2 separate regions of the Homo sapiens genome follow, and region 2 is linked to region 1. The links come from fine-mapping of genetic effects on gene expression. A gene starts in region 1. The other region holds a variant in brackets. All regions are shown on one strand. Distances are between the middles of the regions.

Region 1 (5,527 bases):
CGGAAGCAAAAAATCTAAATCTAGGCCAGGCGTGGTGGCTCACGCCTGTAATCCCAGCACTTTGGGAGGCTGAGGCAGGCGGATCATGAGGTCAGGATATCAAGGCCATCCTGGCTAACACGGTGAAACCCCGTCTCTACTAAGAAAACGCAAAAAAATTAGCCGGGCATGGTGGCGGGCACCTGTAGTCCCAGCTACTCGGGAGGCTGAGGGAGGAGAATGGCATGAACCTGGGAGGCGGAGCTTGCAGTGAGCCCAGATCGCGCCACTGCATTCCAGCCTGGGTAACATAGCGAGACTCCATCTCAAAAAAAAAAAAAAAAAAAAATCTAAATCTAAAACCAGTAAACATGGGCCGAGCGCGATTGCTCACGCCTGTAATCCCAGCACTTCGGAAGGCCAAGGCAGGCTGATCACAGGAGGTCAGGAGTTCAAGACCAGCCTGGCCAACATAGTGAAACCCTGTCTCTACTAAAAATACAAAAATTAGCTGGGCATGGTTGTGGGTGCCTGTAATCCCAGCTACTCAGGCGGCTGAGGCAGGAGAATCACTTGAACCCAGGAGGTGGAGGTTGCAGTGAGCTGAGATTGCACCATTGCACTTCAGCCTGGGCGACAAGAGTGAAACTCTGTTTCAAAAATAAAAATAAAAATAAATAATAAATAAAACCAGTAAACAAAATATAACACACTTAAATGACAAACTTCATGTTCTTCTGGCCAATCATTTCTCAACATCCCTGTCAAACTATTTTAAGGGTCTGAAATCTTGCTCTATAAAAAGCAAGTTCCCATCATCTGAACTACACTTAAAGAGATTCTATCCCACTAGTTACTTAAGCATAATACACCAGGCTTCAGAGTTTTACTTGCTATCAATTAAAAAAAAAGTTTACCTCTTTTACATAAATAAAGTGGAATCTGTGGGTTAATTCAAAAGCCTGACATACTAGGAGATCTGGGTTTTCCGTTCTAACACAAATTTATGGTGAAAACTTAGCAAAAGCCTTTTCTGTATTTGCCAATTCAGTTGTAACACAGAGATACAATATTTGACACCTCCACCACCAACAAAGTCTCCTCTAAGGAGTCCTGACTTTGGTTAACCTTACCTGGGAGAATTAAAAGCTATGGCTGAAAACTCCTTCATAAAAACTAAAACTTTAGAAGTCTAAAATGGTGTTACAAGGTAGCCCATAATAAACAATGAATTATAGAAACTGAGATTTCAGTAACAACTGCTAAAAAGGTGTATTACACAATTTAACAAGATAACCAGATCATCAAAATTTAAATTTCTTAACAAATGTAAAAAATAAATAATATTCAATACTCTGAGGCACTGTGCTACTTTTTATCTATATGGTCGCAACATCAATGTTGCTATTCTCCCAATCCCTTGATGAGCAAACGGAGCCAATATCCAGGATCCCTCATATCGAGAGGTCAGTTACCGTCGTAAATAATCGTAGTAATAAAAACAATTTCTAATGCCAGAATTGAAAACGGACTGTGGCACCCAAATAGGGTCCAAGGTACATGGCGGCATGAAACTATTTCTCGCTTCTGACTCTTCTGCATCACGGTCTCCCAAAGGACTAGAGAATCTGAAGCTCTCATTGCCACATCTACAAATGAAAGTATCATGTTTAAAGAGCTCACAGGTTCTACGAATGGTCAGTATTTAATGAACGCACCCCACTACACAGAAACTCACCCAGCTGCAAACTCAGCTGCAAACTCACCACAGCGTGCTTTCAGACTCCACATTAATTTTTTTTAATTTTAGAAGCAAACAACTATTTTAAAAATATTATGTAATAATTTAAACTCTGGAAAGCCCCATACTCATCCCAGCAGCTCGGAAAACGGAAAGCAAAATTCGATTAGCTCCATTGTACCTAGCCAGGCTAACGTGCAAGATCACACACTCATCTTCGTCAGAGCGTCTCTGCCAATACCAAAGAACAACAAAGGCAAGTTGAGAAGTCTGCACAGGCTTAACTCAGCACTTGTTCGCTTTCCCAGCTTCAGAAAGAAGCTCTTCGAAGGCCCCGGGAACCAAGGGGACCTTGTGCATCCCATCAAGCCGGCCGCTCCGCTCGGCGCCGCTCGCGCAGCTTTTGTCTGGCCCGGTTGGGAGCCCAGGACGGGAGCCCGGGCCGCCCGCCTCCCGGCACCCCTTCTCTCTGGATCTTTCTTCACACCCATCACTCGCCAATGACTAGTTGTTGTGGGTTTCTCTCCCTCGCCCCCTCCCTTCCTTTCAAACGCGCCCCGGGCTCGCTGGCTTCTCCCACCCGGCAGGGGAGACTCGGGTTAGGAAGGGGGCCCGGGTGGGGTCTGGAAAAGGGAAACAGAGAGGGGCACACAAAGCCCGACTGACCCCAGGGCCGATCCCCTCCCTCTGCAAAGCAGCCTGGGCTCAGCGACCTACTGGTTGGATAAACAACCCTCGCATCCCGCTCCTCGCCAGGCTCCCACCTCAGGGCCGCCCCATCCCCCCAAAGTGCACCCAAGAGCCGATGACAGCGCTGGACATCGCCCCCACCCAGACCCGGCGCCCGCCACTGCGCGGGAGGGGCCAGGGCCGCGAGAGGGCTCGGGTCTGACCCTCCGCCCCCTGACCGGGTACTTACAGCCCTGTTTTTCGTTACTGTTGCCGCTGCGGACCAGAGAGCCGCCGCCTTCTCCTCCACCCCAATGAGGTTAAGCGCTTGGTGCGGGGATTAAAAAAAAAAAAAAAGAAAAAAAAAAAAAAGACCGAGAGAGCGAGAGAGACGCCGAGGGCGCCTGCGCAGTGCGGTCACCCTTTTTCTTCTTACCGCCACCAACCCGGGTACACCATAGAGAGCGTAAACCGAGACCAGAGAGGCGGCTGCCTCTCTATGGTAACGCCCCGCGCAGGCGCTGGCCTGGCCGTGTTAGGCTTCGCTGGCGTAAAGTCCCCGGGAGCTTTGCCCCTCACGGAGAACGTTAGTTGACCCTGATGGGGACCCGTAGGGTAAAGGTTTTGTTTTTGTTTTTTTTTACGGAAAAGGTTGTGGTTAGGCCCCTTGGAAAGTTGCGACAAAACTCGAGTTAGACAAGGAAGGTCGGAACTAAGTGGCCACAGCAACAATGCACCAGCAAGCAGGGAGCGTGATAGGAAGAGCTAAAGAGGAATCGGGAAACCCTGGGTAAAAGTCGTCCAAGTGGAACTTCCTTTGGTCGGGGGTCTGATACTCGAAGGAAACGGTCTTTCACTTCTGGGTTAGGGCGTCCGCCCAGAGGGCGACTGCAATGAAGGAAATTGTGCCCTGCGACTTCCCGTAACAGAGCTGTGTGTCCACGCTCCCTTTTCCGAGCAGGCGCGGACGCTTGTGCCGGAAGTAAACTTGTTAACGGTTCTTTGCCTTTTGGGGAGGGGAGACAGCCCAGAGAAGGCTTTGGAGACCCTTGAGTCGGCCAGCGAGCAGGGTTTCTTACTTGAGCGCCTCCACAAATAAACGCTCCTTCGCTCCTCCGTCGCGTGCGTTTCCCTGGGATAATAAGTGGGAAAGTGGTGGCTTTTATTTTTTTGAGACAGGGTCTCACCGCCGTCGCCCAGGCCGGATGGAGTGCAGTGGCGCGATCACGGCTCACTGCAGCCTCGACTTCCCAGGCTCAGGTGATCCTCCTGCCTTAGCCTCCCGAGTAGCTGGAATTACAGGCGTGCACCACCCCCCCCCAACTACTTTTTGTATTTTTTTGTAGAGATGGGTTTCACCATGTTTCCCAGCCTTGTCTCAAACTCCTGACCTCAAGTGATCCGCCGTCTTGGGTCTTCGAAAGTGCTGGGACAGCAGGAGTGAGCCACCGCATCTGGCCCGGAAAGTGTTTTGGAGCGTAGAAAAATGCAAATTATAGGGCTGCCTTCAAGGATCCCGAAGGACCCACAGATTTGCCGCATCAGGCTCCTATGCACGCCGGTAATTTGATGTGTTGAGATGCACTGCCCAGTGCGTTGTTTTTACTGGAGGAGCTTGTGTGCGGAGCTCCTTGCTAGTGTATGTGTTGGGATGGGAGAGAAGTGCGGGAGAACTATGAGATAATGCCCCCTGATCCTCAGGGTCTTAGGAGGTATGGTCGGAGAGGCTAAGCTAAAGTATGAAAGCCGTGTGTAGGCCCTTCTGTGTAGTGCAGAAAAGGTAGAGGTATGTGATTTGAAAGAGTAGGGATGACATGGAGGATGCGACTCCTGGTTGGATCTATAAACTAATGTCTTTGGAACGAAAGCACATGCAACCTTTTGAAAATGGATGGGTGATAATGAAAGACCATTCCAGAGAAGAAACACCATGGTGCAAAGGCTCAAGAGGCATACTGGAAGTACAATGAAGAGAGCAATCTAACTGAAATGGGAAAAAAAGAAACAAAGAGTAAAAAGTAAGATTTGATGAGAAAGATGGAATCGATTTTTAAATTTTTTTATCTACACAACAAAATTTATTATCTTAACCATTTTTGAGTGAATAATTCGTTAGTATTAAGTATATTTACCTCGTGCGGCCAGTCTCCAGAATTCTTTTCATCTTGCAAAACAAACCCCGAACCCATTAAACAATTTCTCATTCGCCATTTTCCAGCTAGCCTTGGTAACCTCCATTCTAGTTCTGTCTCTGTGAATTTGACTGTGTACCCCGTGTAAGTGGTATCATACAGTATTTGTATTTTTGTGACTGGCATATTTCACATAGCATAATCTCCTTGTGGTTTATCCATCTTGTAGCATGTGTCAGAATTTCCTTCCCTTTTAAGACTAAATAATATTCCATTGTGTGTATATACCACTTGTGTTATTTCCACCTTTTGGTTATTGTGAATAATACTGCTTCAAACATGAGTGTACAGATAACTCTTCAAGATCCTTTTAGGGTAATACAGAGATAGTAAGTTATCTTGATTGTTCACTGCCAGTTACAGACCAAACTCCTTGTTCTCCTTGTGCTCCACTTCTCAACCACTGCACTTGGCTAGTCTTAAACAAAAAAAGAAAAACCCTAATTTTAATAGCTTGTGGGGACAGACGCAGTGGCTCACGCCTATAATCCCAACACTTTGGGAGGCCGAGGTGGGTGGATCACTTGAGGTCAAAAGTTCGAGACCAGCCTGGCCAATATGGTAAAACCCTGTCTCTACTAAAAATACAAAAATTAGCCGGGTACGGTGGCACACACCTGTAATCCCAGCCACTCAGGAGACTGAGGCAGGAGAAATGCTTGAACCCAGGAAGTGGAGGTTGTGGTGAACGGAAATTGCGCCGCCGCACTCAAGCTGGGCGACAGCGAGACTCCGTCTCAAAAATTAGTATTAATAGAATGTGGGAGATTTTGAAACCAAGTATAGAAATTCATACTTTATATTGTTTAAGGTCCGTGACTAGGCATAGTAACATGATGAAAGAACTGTTTTGGGTTTGTTTGGTTTTTTTCCGAGACAGAGTCTCACTCTGTTGCCCAGGCTGGCGTGCAGTGGTGCGATCTCGGCTCACTGCAACCTCTGCCTC
Region 2 (5,000 bases), 190 kb before region 1:
GGCGGTCTCTGGCCAATTTGTTAAAAATAATAAAATAAATTTTAAAACGACAAATATAGAGCTGCTTCATGTTTAAGAGGGTCTTGTACCCATAGAAACCCAGCAGGATCAACAAGACACCCCAGGAAAAAAGGTAAACGGCTGGCAAAGGTCATCTGGGCTCTAAATCTTAAGAGTGAAGGACTCTTTCACAGGGCTAGCATCAAGACACACAGCTAAGGGAATGGGGCCAAGAGGTTGCCCAAGCCTGCCAGTAATTATCCTATAAGACTCCCAATACAGTCTACTGGAACAGCTTTAGTGGTATTCATGAATTCCCTGAAAACCTACACAAAACTATTCTGTACATTTACGACTTGCTGGAAAGAGGGTTCATAGATTTTAAAAGACTCTTAAAACACTCAAGAATCACAGGTCTGAGCTGAAAGAACACAGTCTTTATTCCTCACACGTAGTTTAGGGCAGCTCGCCAGGACATATAAGATAGGGACTTGGGAACAAACCCCTAGCTAGTTACCCAGGTTGTATTTGCCTGTGTCTTCTGGGTATATCTCCCACAACTGCACAGAACTAAGTGACAGTGAAGATTCAGAATCCCAGAAATCGCTAACAGAAGATGCAAACACATACCTTTCCCCTCACCTATGTTAATACAAAACTATTGCCATTGATGTTTACGGTATTTTTTTCTTGCATGCAGTTACTGCCTTTACTCAGGGAATAGGGCAGACCGATGACAAAGGTAGGAGGATTATCACAGGAAAAAAATGTACAGGGAGTCCTCTCCCCTTCTCCTTCTGCCACTAACACCCAAACTCACTTTCTCTCACACAGACATACACACACACACACACACACACACACACACAGAAACATAATAGAGGTTGTCCACATTCATTTCCCAAAATATTTAGATCTTGATTCTTCAACTCAAAGTCATTTACTGCAGTGATTTTAAGTAATACTAAGCATGTTATACATGAAATTTTATCCATGGAAGGAGATTTGGAATTTGTTTTGGTTTTTAAACAATTCAAAAACAATGAGAAAATCCTTTAAAATTTACCTTCTAACTGCGACAGACTTAGAGGTACAGTTGCTTGTTATGACAGGTATTAACCTAGGGATGTGTGTGTGCTGTGAAGAACAACAAAAAACAGAGGTCAACACTTGCAAATACAAAAACAAAACAAAATTAAGAGAATCACTTCCTTACTAACCTACTTATAGCACATATATATTCAGATTAGAATGTCAGTGAGTTTTAAAAGAAAAAAAGAATTCACAGGATATTGTCAAAAGCCATTAGAAAATTTACAGAGTTAAGAACAGGCAACATGATGACATGAAGATAAGCCTAAAACAATCATTAGTATGAGGTCTAAATTATCTCAGCTGTAGACATCTGAGTGGGTTTAAAAGGAGTGGGTTTGAAAGGAGTCATCAGACCAATATATTTTGATACTATTTCAATAGAAATGTCCAATAATGACCTTGGGTTTAACAGTTAAAGCAGGCAGTGCAAGTAAGAACAGTAAGAACTTATAATACAAAGTAAATAACCAATAATCAAGAATATTCTGGATAGATTTTAGACAACATCATCAAGCCTCAAAGTTTCAAGAGCTGCCTCTGGGCAAAAATGACTTGAAAGTGGTGGGGAGGTAATGTGGAAAACCATTTTAAACCTTTGTGAACTATTAGATTTTGTTAAAAACCTGTGTATAAATTACTTGGATAATTATTTAAATTTAAACAAACAAGTGCCTAGAAAACCTAACCAAAGAGAACATTTTGTTTCGTGCTTATGTGCAATTAATTAAACTTTTGGGTGAACAGTAAAACCACAAGCACCAATACCTAAAACGGAAGGACTGGGACTAAGGAGGTAAGACTAAGAGTAATATCCGAGTAACAAGAATACAATATAAACTCAGAAGCAGACACCGGATGTTCGAACATTTTAAACCAATAGTGAGTTAACAATCAATACCTCATTAACTTTATAACACAACCATAATTCACATTATGGATTATAAAAAGCTCACATGCCACAATTAAGTAGGGGGAAAAGATGATATATATACAAAATTCCAATATAATTATGCTAATAAATTTAATGACTCAATATAATTATGTTAACAAAAATGCCTCTAATATTTATCAACCATCAGTATTTACCACTTGCTTATTTCAAGCATGGCCTATAACATACTTACCCGAATAATTAACCTAACAGCTACAACACCAGATGTGGCCATAATTTTGGCACTGTTTGGAATTAAATTAAAGATAGTTGGCATAATGGCTTCAGCTCCATGGTCAAACTTATTCCCCAGAACTGATGACAGATGCCTAAAACAAGAAAAGGATACTGGACTATAGTTATTTTTCTTAGAGACAGTGAAGCATATAAACCACTTAACATCTAGAGCCTTCATTTAAAGTTATCTAGAAAGGACAAGGGTCTGAGATTTCCGATGTGCATGTTAAGAACTTGGCAAATAGTTCTTAGCCCAAAAGTTTTGTT[G/GT]TTTTTTTTTTTAAAAAAAAACATTTCCAACTAGTCTGTGGAGCTTTTTGTTTGTTTTCTAGAGGCAGGATCTCACTACCTTGCCCACGTTGAACTTGAACTCCTGGGCTCAATCAATCCTCCCACTTTGGCTTTCCAAGTAGCTGGGACTCCAGGCACATACCAGCCCACCTGCCCCAGCTAGTCTTAAAATAGCAAACAAACTGATTATATATTAATAAAACACAAATATGAAAAAGCACCCTTGGCTCCTTTTTCTTTTTTCTTTTATCTTAACATAAAATATTCAGGCTTCAAAATCTGACTTCAGCCAAAACTTAAAACAGCTGCAATGCCTCCTCCTGCTGCTGCTGCTGCTTTGATATTCCGACATACATTCTAACACAAAGTTTTAATAGCTTTGATCACTAGTACACGTACAGCTAGAATAAAATCTTACTGCAGTAAATGCCTTTAACTTTATAACTACAGTACTCTTCTAGGAACAAACATTCTGATAAACACGCTATTGCCTGCCAGCAAAAATCAATGAAAAATCAGAGAAACAGGATTTTATAGAATTTCACTTTTCCATATTAATAACTGCTTCAAAGTTTGAAATAAAGACTTCAGAGCTATGTCACTGAATAAAATTTAAAATCTGTCACACTTCACATAATTGAGCAAAAAGTATTGTAAAACTACTGAAAGAAGTGTTAACTGGAATGGGTCTTGGAGACTAGTCAGAAGTTACATTAAAGAGACCCAGCTCACATGTTCAAGGAGACATCTCTGAAGCTCTGTGGTGACACTATTTTATGGTGAGAATATGGAGCATCGCAGTCCTTACCCCAACGTGATACAAGCCTCCCGCACTACCTGAGACCGCAGGTCCTTAGCAGAGAGTTTAAAGGCTCCATCCAAAAGACGCAAATGTTGAAAGAAGTTATCATACTCAGCAGCACCAGCCAAAAGTAAAGATCTAATCTTTTTTAGCTAATGGAATAGAGAAAATTCAGAAAAATAGAAAACAATTCTAACACAGACTATACACAACAAAAGAAGTCATCAAATACAAAAGAGATCATTGTTAAAGTTCAACTGATTAGAAAGCTTTCCCAAAAGAATTCAGCCAGTTAAATATTAGCTAATACAATAAACAAATCTACATATCACAAATAAGACTAAATAATTTTTAACTAGAGTATTTGTGACACATATACTATAATTTCTGCAAAAAAAGTTTTACATTTGAAATATCTTAAAGTATTTATAGATCCTACAACACTAATGATAAATAATTAAAAACTTTTGGCTTGTGAAAATCCCCTCCTAAGCTTACCTCCCCGCGACACCCCACTTCAACTGCCATTTATTTAAGAATCAAAGGAAGAAGCATTCCTATAGTATTTATTATCCTCCACTGAACCATTAAATGGCTGGTCTGAATTTGAAATACAATATAATGGCAATTGTACCACTTCTCTTCTTGCCAGCCAACCAGTAGAAAATAGCCTTCTCAGATAAGACACACCCTCACTTTAATGCTGAGCCCACTTTCCATTAATCTACTTTTAAAAATAAAGGAGACACAACTTTCTAGCAAGTGATAAGAAGAAAGAAAAGAATATTGGAGACATACACTAAAAATGCCACAAAAAAGCCACCTTAAAGGCAAACAATCACAGAATGAAATTTCTGCTAAGGTGAGAGTGGAGACTATTACCATACATTCCACAGTCAGGTCTTTGTTAAAAGACTAGGCGATTCATAAAGGTGTAAGTTGGTGTGTTTTCAAAATAAAAATAAAAGGAGACACTCTACTAAAAAGGTGAAGTATAAATATGATAATTTGAACTTAAAATATGTACTATTTAGAATTCATTAGAGCTGTCCCAATTTCACAATAAAGTATTTGAGATATTTAAATACATCTTATGAAAATGTAATCACATGAAGTCAACAGCTTACAGCATTTACTCTCTGCTCCCAATCATGCTTGTCATCAGATAATATTTCCCTAATTTTGTTTATGGATTCCTCAAGGTCTCGGCTGGAATAAATCTGTAAGCAAAATTAATTTACAATCAATATAAAAACATGCAGAATAAACAGATTATTTCTTAATTACATGAAGTCAAGAACATTAAGTATGGTAAAAGAAATTATTTTTTTAAGAAATACCTATGAGAAAATATCTGAACAGTTTTGTCTATAATGAGGATCTTTCTCACTACAAATGTGTACCCACAAGATTTGCTGCCATATGTGAATAACCCTGCCTCAAACATAGCTTTACTATAAACTTAACAGATGATTTCATGTACAAAGAGAAACAAGGCTAATGGGAAACAGCCAGTGATGCCTAAGTCATTTCTCACTTAGTATTATTTATAACATGACACTATACCTATAAATTTAAACAGTTTCAAATCTACTTTCTCATTTATCCCCACATCTTACCTAGAAAACAGGTAAGGTACAGGGTATA

Direction of the effects. Positions count from the first base shown, and alleles are read on the strand shown. Sizes are in standard deviations (SD) of each study's normalised expression.
In carriers of allele G in region 2, the expression in skeletal muscle of the gene that starts at base 2,730 in region 1 tends to be higher than with GT alone (small effect, 0.28 SD a copy in FUSION).

The links. PIP is the estimated chance that this variant, and not a neighbour inherited with it, causes the effect. A credible set is the group of variants that fine-mapping cannot tell apart.
Region 2: its variant is the best candidate, but not a certain one, in a credible set for the expression of CLASP1 in skeletal muscle (FUSION, PIP 0.66).

The regions. Positions count from the first base shown.
Region 1 is chr2:121,646,733-121,652,259 of GRCh38, forward strand. It overlaps CLASP1 (cytoplasmic linker associated protein 1), which reads right to left and starts at 2,730. Exons shown (of 41, transcript NM_001395891.1): 1 at 2,640-2,730. NIFK-AS1 (NIFK antisense RNA 1) reads left to right here and starts at 2,922. Exons shown (of 4, transcript NR_037857.1): 1 at 2,922-3,649; 2 at 3,736-3,950. RefSeq lists enhancers at 1,684-2,312, 2,313-2,939, 2,971-3,240.
Region 2 is chr2:121,456,621-121,461,620 of GRCh38, forward strand. CLASP1 (cytoplasmic linker associated protein 1) reads right to left here. Exons shown (of 41, transcript NM_001395891.1): 11 at 4,481-4,573; 12 at 3,360-3,505; 13 at 2,220-2,355; 14 at 1,067-1,137. Among named protein-coding and RNA genes, the nearest start is that of CLASP1-AS1, 71 kb to the right of the region's middle. The variant G/GT (reference allele first, on the strand shown) is at 2,531.